Linked DNA regions of Homo sapiens: region 1 is linked to region 2. The links come from fine-mapping of genetic effects on gene expression. A gene starts in region 2. The other region holds a variant in brackets. All regions are shown on one strand. Distances are from middle to middle. Region 1 overlaps SLC16A9 (solute carrier family 16 member 9). Region 2 holds the start of SLC16A9 (solute carrier family 16 member 9).

Evidence for each region. PIP is the estimated chance that this variant, and not a neighbour inherited with it, causes the effect. A credible set is the group of variants that fine-mapping cannot tell apart.
Region 1: its variant is the best candidate, but not a certain one, in a credible set for the expression of SLC16A9 in T cells (TOPMed, PIP 0.52).

The regions. Positions count from the first base shown.
Region 1 is chr10:59,674,657-59,680,107 of GRCh38, forward strand. The region is part of intron 2 of SLC16A9 (solute carrier family 16 member 9); the gene reads right to left. Among named protein-coding and RNA genes, the nearest start is that of SLC16A9, 32 kb to the right of the region's middle. The variant A/G (reference allele first, on the strand shown) is at 2,646.
Region 2 is chr10:59,706,745-59,711,744 of GRCh38, forward strand. SLC16A9 (solute carrier family 16 member 9) reads right to left here and starts at 3,106. Exons shown (of 6, transcript NM_194298.3): 1 at 2,735-3,106. RefSeq lists an enhancer at 2,249-2,448 and silencers at 2,679-2,738, 2,879-2,948, 3,179-3,448.

The sequences.
Region 1 (5,451 bases), 32 kb before region 2:
AGGCATGACCCTTCTCTGTTGTTACCAAACTACATTGACATTGAGTTTCAGTGTTCACAAATTTTACAACACATTGGAATTGAAACACACAGAGATTATTCCTGGCATACTTGAAAAGTTTCAAGTTTCATCCTCAAAATAGGACTTTATGCTCTTTAATGCATGCTAATTCCATGAGGAAGCCTCAGAGCCTGGGAGTGTGGGGGCAAGATGGAGGAGTAATAATTTTCATAACATGTACAACCAAAGCCACTGCTGTATGAAATATACAGCATTGTTATCAACTATGTGATAAATTCTTAAGTCACTTTTTTTGCCTAACAAATGATTTTTTTTGAAGAACAATTTAAGCATTAGGAAAAAATGAACAGAAATTCTCTTACAGTGGAAACAGCAAATGGAAACAGGGTTTAAAATTCTCTACTTTCACATTGCCATCTGCTGCTGATTTAGAGAAATATATCATTAGGTCAGAGATTAAAGACAAAAAATTTTAGAGCTGAAATTTTGGAAGTTGAAAACGGTCTAAACACCTCAATTTAAAAATGGTGAAACTGGAACTCAGAAAGATCATGTGATTTGACCAAGAGTCCATAGCTAGCCAATGACAGGTCTAAGGCCAAAGTCAGACCAGCATTCTCCCTGATTGAGAAATAGTTCAATTGGGATCTTAATTTTTTCCTAGAAATCAAATTACTAGTAAAGAACATCAAGGTACTGTTAGAGTAGGTAGTTAGGCAGACATGAGCAGGGCAGGAGAGCCCTCGCCTCACCCAGGAATTTCCAGTAACCATCAGGTGATGGTCAGATGTTTATTAAACTGTTTTTCTGAAATGATAATTGGCCACAGCCAACACCAGGGGAAGAGAGTCTCCCAGTAGACAGAAAACACCTGGAGCTGGTGATCAGCAGCTTCCCAATAAGATCTCAGGAGTTGGACAAGTGGACTCTGGCATGCTCACTAAGAGGCAAAATGGTGGATGTACGACCTTCCTCTGGGGGCATTTGACTGGTAAAGGAAAACTGCCCCTACGGAGCATGAGCACAGCCTCAGTAAACACACTATGCACGTGGTCACCCTCCCAAATGACCAACACTGCCTATGCAGCAGTTGAGCAACAGCCAACCATAAGGAAAGAATCAAGAGAGAAGGAAAAACCCCAGAACCATGCCAACTTGTAAAACCCCAAGTCAAGGACTGAATGGGGCACCTGAATCTCTCAAGTTGCCCACATGGCCCTCTTCCAAGTGTAAATACTTCCTTTCACTCCTGCTCTAAAATTTTTTAATAAACTCTCACTCCGGCTCTAAAACTTGCCTTGGTCTCTTTCTCTGCTTTAAACCCACTTCTGCCCCCTGGCGGAATTCTTTCCTCCAAGGAAGCAAGGATCAAGTCTGATGCAGACCTGTATGGATTCACCACTGGTAATGGTACTTTTGTTAATGTCTTATAGATAACATAGCTTTATGAACTTATGTTAGATGAAAACATAAAATTTATAATCACTTGGTGTTCAATAGTTTAGAGCAAAATTATTTTACCCTTATCCTTAGAACCTGGGTTTATTTATAGATTCTATTCACATAGATTTAAAACACAATAGCCTCATATTTCAGCAATAACAAGACAAAATGTATCAAAGTGACCATCAAGTCACATCTGCAAAATGTGATATATTTATGTATTTAGCTCTTTGTAGTAACTGTGCAAGGCCTCAAGATGATAAACCATCTATTATTCCTCAGCACTGGATGAGTTTCAAGAGACAGATTAAATCAAAGGGCTACTTTCAGGAGATTTCTTACAATGCAAAGTGAAAACTCTGCAGAAGGGAACTTTGGAACAAAAGTTAGTTTACCTGTGACATGAACCAGTGATTCCACACCTTTGAACCTGAACAATTTTAGGGAAAAAAGGGGGGGAAAAAGGGGCAAGGGTTCCTAATGTTTTATTTTCACAAGATACTTTAAAAATATAATAACTGGCCAGGCATGGTGGCTCAAGCCTGTAATCCCAGCACTTTGTGAGGCCAAGGCAGGTGGAACACCTGAGGTCAGGAGTTCAAGACCAGGTTGGCCAACATGGCGAAACCCTGCCTCTACTAAAAATACAAAAATTAGCCAGGTGTGATGACACATGCCTGTAATCCCAGCTACTCGGTAGGCTGAGGCAGGAGAATTGCATGAACCGGGAAGGTGGAGGTTGCAGTGAGCTGGGATCACGCCACTGTGCTCCAGCCTGGGCAATGAGCAAAACTCTTGTCTCAAAAAAAAAAAAAAAAAAAGTAATAACCATCTATTATTACTACTGCTTAATTAGAGAAGAAGAAATGTTTAAATAAGCTAATAGTGAGAAGGATGTAATTTTGGAATAAAATGCAAGACAGTAAGAAGATAATAGGAACTTCACACACACACACACACTCATACATTTCCTCTATCATTGCCTTTATATTCATTTTGCCTTTGGTGAAAGTTTTTCCCGAACTTACCACTGCCTGCATATTAGTGTTCAAGAGCCAATATTATTGTTGTCAGTATTGGTGTTTAGAAGCCACTATTGCCTCAGCCTCCCAAGTTACCACCACTCCTGGCTAATTAAAAAAAAAAAAATTATAGAGACAGGGTCTCATTATGTTGCCCAG[A/G]CTGGTCTTAAACTCCTGGTCTCAAGTGATCCTCCTGCCTCAGCCTCCCAAAGCTCTAAGTATTATAGGCATGAGCCACTACACCCAGCGCAGTGTGTATTTATTATACCTATAGCTCATCTAAACTGGAATAAGCCACATTTCAGGTGCCCAGTAGCCACATGTGCCCACCCTACTGGACAGCACAGTACTAGAATCTCATATCATGTTAGAAAAGGACACAGAGAAATCAAACACAATCCAGGACTCAGACAAGAGGCAAAACAAACTCGCATCAAGGTTTAAAATAAAACCCAAGGCCAAAAGCACCAAAAGAAAGGTTCAGACGGCTTGTTTGGGGATTTCATAAGAGGAAGAAAAACCAAGGCCACAGAACTAAGCCTTGAACTAGGCTGCGAAGTATGGTTATGTCAACAAAAGGGATGAACATCTATTCTAAATGGAGGGAACAGAAACATAACGTGATTTTTCAGTTTTTAATTTATTATAGGATAGTTTTGGGAATGAAATTATTCCCTTTAGGAAATAAACTCAACCTCCACGCACTTTTTTTTTTAAGTTTAGCTACTTTTATTATTATTTTTTTAATTTATTATTATTATACTTTAAGTTTTAGGGTACATGTGCACAATGTGCAGGTTAGTTACATATGTATACATGTGCCATGCTGGTGCGCTGCACCCACTAACTCGCCCTCTAGCATTAGGTATATCTCCCAATGCTATCCCTCCCCCCTCCCCCCACCCCACAACAGTCCCCAGAGTGTGATGTTCCCCTTCCTGTGTCACACTTCTTTTTCCTAAAAAGTTTCAGAGAGTCCCAGGAGTAGAAGGATGGCCAGGTCTGCTGCAGTGAATACATAAGTTGGCTGATGCTACAGTGAGAAACAGAATATAGTAGTAACCAGGTTATGGACCTGCCATGCAGCAAGGATTTCCTAACAGAGTGGATCAGTTGGGCCTGTGAAGGTCCTACCTTTCCATCTAAAATTCAGGGAGCCCAAGGTGTGAGCTCCTCCAAATTGCAGGTTCCTCAATCCTTGCTCCAGCAAAGACTGTAAATCTCAAGTTCATCTCCTTGAGAAAGAAAAAGGCACTAAGGAGCCACACCCACTCAAATTGTTGATCTCATATACCCTGACTGCCTTTCATTTTAGTGGGTTTGGTGGTATTTAGAGATGGCAGAAAGCTTAACCAAAACCTGGTCTTTATTCCTACCAATCTTTTTTTTTTCTTTTTCTTTTTCTTTTTTTTGAGACGGAGTCTCGCTCTGTCGCCCAGGCCGGACTGCGGACTGCAGTGGCGCAATCTCGGCTCACTGCAAGCTCCGCTTCCCGGGTTCACGCCATTCTCCTGCCTCAGCCTCCCGAGTAGCTGGGACTACAGGCGCCCGCCACCGCGCCCGGCTAATTTTTTGTATTTTTAGTAGAGACGGGTTTTCACCTTGTTAGCCAGGATGGTCTCGATCTCCTGACCTCATGATCCACCCGCCTCGGCCTCCCAAAGTGCTGGGATTACAGGCGTGAGCCACCGCGCCCGGCCACCAATCTTAAAACTGCCTAGCACACTGGGAACCTGCCAATGCAACAGAATCCTTGAGAGAAGCAGGAATTCAGTACTCCTTGAAGGAGTTAACAGTGCTTAGGGGTAATGCCCAAACCCAGCTCTGCCAGCACTCATAACTCATTCAGCAAGTGGGCCTGGCCATACTGACTCATTATATTAACATGGTGATGCGTTTACTGACTCGTATTATGAGTTTGAACACCTTTGGAGGAAGTGAAGACAAAAGGGAGAGGGCAAGGACTCTCAAATCTGCTTTGAGTACAAAACTGCAGACTAGATCTCCGTGCTATTTCCTGCTGTTTCAGCACTTGGGTAGTGTGAGAAACAGAACCACCGTTTCCTTGAATTTGGAGAACAATATCTAGCCAAAGGGTGTGTTAGCTCATCTTAAAACAATGCAAGGCCATGATAGCTCTCTAGTTCAGTTACCTTCCATTCTTCCCATATCAGTCAAGTTTCAACCAGAAAAACAAAACCAGTAGGAAGCATATATTAAGACATTTGTTGCAAGGAATTGGCTTACACGTTTGAAACAACCATACTAGGCAGCCAGACAATACCTGCCTAGCTAACCAAGTCAAAAATTTGCAGAGGAGGCCATTAGGAAGGGCATGTTGGAACTCTCAGGGATAGGCTGCAGCTACAATTACAAGCAGAATTTCTTCTTTTGGGAAAGCTCATTTCTGCTCTTAAAGCCTTTCAACAATTGAGCCAAATCCATCTAGATTTTCTAGGATAAGCTACCTTATTTAAAGTTAAGTGACTATGCACTTTATTCACATCTACAAAATAACTTCCCAGCAACACCTAGATTGGTGTTTGAACAACTGGAGAATGTAACCTAGCCAAGTTGAAACATAAAACTGACCGTCACACCTCCCAACACAATCCCTCCTTTCCAGCCAAATTTACTCCATGAGAACACAGCCTCTGCAGTACCAAATCCAGGCCTCTGCATAAAGGTAATTTGCATGGACTTCCCTCTCCCTGTCTATCTGCCTATGAAAGTCCATCTTCCTATCTGGCCCATCTCAATAGCTTCCTCAAAGGCTATCCCTCTAAAACCTCAGAGATTGTTTTGCCATTGCTATTCTCCTTGATATTTGTGAATTCTCAAATTATTAGTTACCTTTTTTTTCTGTCTCTTCCCTGAGACTACAAACCTTTTAGAAACATGGATGGTGTTTTCTATATTGGCATCCCTAGCTCAGAGACCCTAGGAATATATGTAATGAGGATGA
Region 2 (5,000 bases):
GGTTGATCACCTGAGGTCAGAAGTTCGAGACCAGCCTGGCCAACATGGTGAAACCCCATCTCTACTAAAGATACAAAAAATTAGCCAGGCATGGTGGCACGCACCTGTAATGCCAGCTACTCGGGAGGCTGAGGCAGAAGAACTGCTTGAACCCGGGAGGCAGAGGTTGCAGTAAGCCAAGATTGAGCCACTGCACTCCAGCCTGGGTGACAACAGCAAAACTCCATCTCAAAAAAAAGAGTGAAACTCCATCTCAAAAAAAAAAAAAAAAAGGGAAGTCAGCTGGGCACAGTGGCTCATGCCTGTAATCCAGCTTGGGAACCATGGCGAAACCCCATCTCTACAAAAACACAGAAATTACCTGGGTGTGGTGGCACACGCTTGTAGTCCCAGCTACTCGGGAGGCTGAGGTGCGAGGATCACCTGAGCCTGGTGAAGTCGAGGCTGCAGTGAGAAGAAAGAGAGAGAGAGAAGAGAGAGAAGAAAAGAGGGAAGGAAAAGAGGGGAGGGCAGAGGAGGGGAGGGGAGAGGAGGGAAGGGAAGGGAAGGGAAGGGAAGGGAAGGGAAGGGAAGGGAAGGGAAGGGAAGGGAGGGGAAGGGAGGGGAAGGGAAGGGAAGGGAGACTTGAATCTAAAATTGTTGAACTCAGAGAATAGAGTAGAACCCTGGTTACCAGTAGGTAGGGTTGGGGTGAAGAGATGTTTGTCAAAGGATACAAAATTTCAGTTAGATAGGAGCAATAAGTTTAAGAGATCTATTGTGCAACATAGTGACTATAGTCACTATAGTCACAATTTTGAAAATTGTTAAGATGGTAGATTTGAAGTGTTCTCACCACACCAAAAAAAAAAAAAAAACAAAAGATAAAAATGTGACGTAATACATATAGGTTAATTATGTTGGTTGGGCCATTCTACAATGTATTACTGTTTCAAAATACTGTGTTGTGTGCATCATAAATATATACAATTTTTATTACCTAATTAATTAGGGGTTTGAAAGATTGAGGTAAGGAAGTAAAACTTGAAAATGTGACCACATCTCTGTAGTTGTCATCCTCTAGCTTGAGTTGCATGGCCAGATCCACCCCAGACCACCATAATGTGTCCTGATAAAGATTCAGACACCAACCAATTCACACCACCTTTTCAGACTCAAAGTCAGAAGCCAGAAAAGATTTCCTAATGTCTTGATCTACCTCCCCATATCTTTGGCTCCTCCCAATGCTCTTCCTATGGATATGAAGGATACCTGTTATTCCACTTGCCTACACAAAAAATGGAAGAAACCAGTAGGGATGTTATTAGGGGGTCGGTGGTGCTGAAAGTCTGAGTTGTTGCAAAATTGCAGGTTAAATTATTTTATCTAATTCCTACTTGCGAGGACTTTTTTTTGATGGTGGAGGGAGAGCGGGACTGGTTTCTGGCAATGATATGGGTACTAACCATGTTTTCTGCATTTACATATTTATTATTAATTATTGCAACAGATAATAGAAAATGACTTTACTCTGCATTTGGTCCAGGAAAGTGGAAGGGTTTTCCTATTAGAAGTTTTAAAAGAAGCTATAATCATGCAACAAATAATCATCCTTTCTCTTCGGAATCTTCTCTAGCTTCCTCAGCCCTCTGCCTAAACCTGCCTGAAGAATTTCTCGAAGCTGAAGCCAACTCAAATATAAGAAACTGTTAGGGCATACCGATTTACAGAATTTGATGGAACAACGGAAAATCCTGGGTGCAGGGAATGGGAGAATCCACCTTCAATATGAACTGTTATTCAGTTAATTCAAGATTTTTAAAAAACACATCAAAACTGTAGCCTAGAAAATTGACCAAAAATGTTATATCGAATAACTTACTATATAAGTAATATATTTAGCGTAAATCCTGACTAAACTTCGGGGATAGTTTGTGTTGGATAGACTAGGCACCCAGAAAACAAGGTAAAGCATTGATTTGCTTTTGACAGCCAAGTTTGTTCGTGGTTATCAGCTCTCTGGAAAGCCTCTGGGCGCTGCTGAAGCCAGAGCAGGTTACCTAGGGCGAACCAAAGATGGGGCATTAAGCACCAAGTCCTCCCAAGTGCTGGCTGAGGGTCCAGGTGGGCGCGGTGCCGGTGCCTCCTGCGGCGGTGGCGAAGGCTGGGCTCCCGCGCTCGCCCAGGGCTGCCGGGTGGTGCTGAACCTGGCGCCAACGTGCAGAATCCGCCGGCCCTGCGCGCTGCGCTCCACGTAGGTCAGGAGTACCCGCGGCGCCCCATTCCCAACCCTCCGGGGGCACCTGGTTGCTCGCGCTCCGGACCAAGGCAGTTGGAGGCCTTTCGGTCCTCTGGGAAATGGAGGCCCACCTGCATCACATGCACCTCTCCCTGCTCTTCCACCAGCAACCCTGGAAGCTCTCTGGAGTCCAGAGGCAGCTCTCTGGGGGGCCACCGTACCACCCCCAGGACCCCCTCCCTCTCTTTCAACTCCGTACAAAATGCCGCCTTCGGATTCCCGGGAAAACTTGCCCACTTTGTAGAAGCACCCCATCAAAAAGGGGGCGGCGAGGGGCGGGCGCACCGTGGACACTCGAAGCCCCCGGCACACACCCCAGACAAAAGCCCGGTTCCATGCTGCTCCACCGCCCCCTCCTACTGCTCCGAGTCGGAGTTACTTCTTGCCTCTAGGACGCTGGGCAGCAGGGGCTGCTGCCCACCTTTGGAACCCTCCCCGCAAGCTCCAGCCCTTTACCTGAGTCCCGGCCTCGGCGGGGCCTCCGGTGCTCAGCACCCGGCTCAGTGCCCCGTGCGGCCGGGCTGGTGGTGTGGTGGGGATCGCGGCCGCCGCTCTCCCCTGCAGCTCCGGGCCAGCCGGGCGGCTATTTATCCGAGCCAGCTGCGGCCCCGGCCCCTGCCGGAGTATTAGGCAATCGGTCCCGCTACGCGCTGCCCCGGGAGCCGCCGCCCTCTGCCCCCACAGACCCGCAGCGGCGGCGGCCACATGGAGCTGGGGAGCCGGCCCCCTTCTCTGAGCTCCACCTTCTCTTTCGCCTTCTCCTCCCCGGGGTTTTCCCTGCTGTCTTTTTCTCCCTTGTCTCTCTTTGCGGGGCACCCCGGCCAGTCTGAACCGGTTGTGACTGCGCGGGTGGTTGGGGGAAGGAGGAGGAGGAGGCGGAGGAGATGGAGGCGGAAAAGCGGGCGGTAGGGGCGCTGCGCCTGCTCCCGCTGCTCCCGGCCCGGCCAGGAGTAGGGAGGGCACTGCCCGAGCCGCGGCCCCGGCCCTACCAGGCCTGGAGCCACCAAAGCCACGAGAGAGGTGGGCGCCGTCGGCCAGGCGCCCTCTCGGTGCGCACACACGCGCGTCCCCAGGCGCCGCTGTGCCCCCGCCGCCCACCACGTGCCCTGGCCAAGCCCGCCAAGGGCCGTGCGCGTTTGGGGGGAGCCGGGGTGTACAAATGAATGCGAGTGTTCCTTGGTCTCCCTGGCTCCCGGGGCCGCTGGCGCCCTCCTGGCCGGAGCTGTATGCTCAGCTGGCAGTGGTCCCGGAGAAACGGGCACCAGAACTTTGTGGAGTCCGTGATCCTGGGAAGTGAGGAGTGAGGATGCCAAGTACAGTCCTTTGTGACAGCTCCGCGGGAAAGGAGGGCGTCCTGCGGTGCACACACACACACACACACACACACACACACACACACACACACACACACAGGCTGCTTCTAAGGACGTTCAGTCTGTCCTGCAGTTGAACTGCACTAACAATACTACCATTGGCAATACTATCTTTGGTAATGGGCTTGCGCGCAGAGATGGATGGCTGTTTTATCCCTCAGTCACTGCAGCAGCTGGGGGCTGTCCATAGGTACCAGTGGTTCGCCGGCCGTGGGAAACCTCCAAAGTGATATGCACTTTTTGTGTTCCTCTGTGTTTTTTCTGGGAAGCCGCACCACACTTTCTACTTCTTAAAGGGGACTGCGGCCATCAACCACCTTGATGAGAACTTCCTTTATACACTGAAGTGACAGGTCCTGGCCTAGACGAAGACTCTACACCTGGCAAAGGGTTGGTTTCAGAAGTGCTGATCAAGCTGCTGAGCCTCTGTTTCCTTGTCTATGAAATTACAAGAATCTTGCCTGTATCATGGAGTTTGTGTGAGATGAGAGTTTAAAAAACCTGTGGAGCCTAGGCAACCATGTCATGTTTTCTTACAGCACAAATGTGGTGGAGGTTCAGCCCTTTTGGCCCCCATCAGTCCTTTCTACTCAATTTATTGACTTTCAGGTTAGAGTGAAGAGAATGACCACTGCTAGTCAATAGTATTTTGTTTTGTTCTAAGAAGGAAAAAGAGAAGAGGGGAAAAGTAACAGTGAGAATGAGAGCAACATGGTCCCAAGAATAAGTTCTGGAAGGAAAAATGGAGAAACTGTACTGTCAACACCATAAAAAACTTACTTCTAAAGAGGCAAGGGAACACAATAGGGGATTCTTAGGCTGTATTTTTTTACCTGGTTTATGGTTACTCAAGTGCGTTCACTTTGTGGTAATGCGTTGACCTATACACTGATAATTTGTGTTCTTTTCTCTATGTTTCAATAAAATAGTTTTTTTGAGATGGAGTCTTGCTCTGTTGCCCAGGCTGGAGTGCAGCGGCGTGATCTCAGCTCATTGCAACCTCCATCTCCCAGGGTTCAAGCAATTCTCCTGCCTCAGCCTCCTGAGTAGCTGGGATTACAGGCACGCAGCACTATACCTGGCTAATTTTTGTATTTTTAGTGGATATGGGGTTTCACCACGTTGGCCTGGTCTTGAACGCCTAACCTCAAGTGATCCACCGCCTTGGCCTCCAAAGTGCTGAGATTACAGGTGTGAGCCACCGCACCCAGCCAATGAAAGGTAATTTTAGAAAGTCTGTCTTTGATTCAAATACTTCCTAAGCACCAGAGCACATGTTATCTTGATTGTTGCTCAAACCAATCAATGTATATGAACTTATGTTTTGGGGACAAGGAAATTGTGCCTGG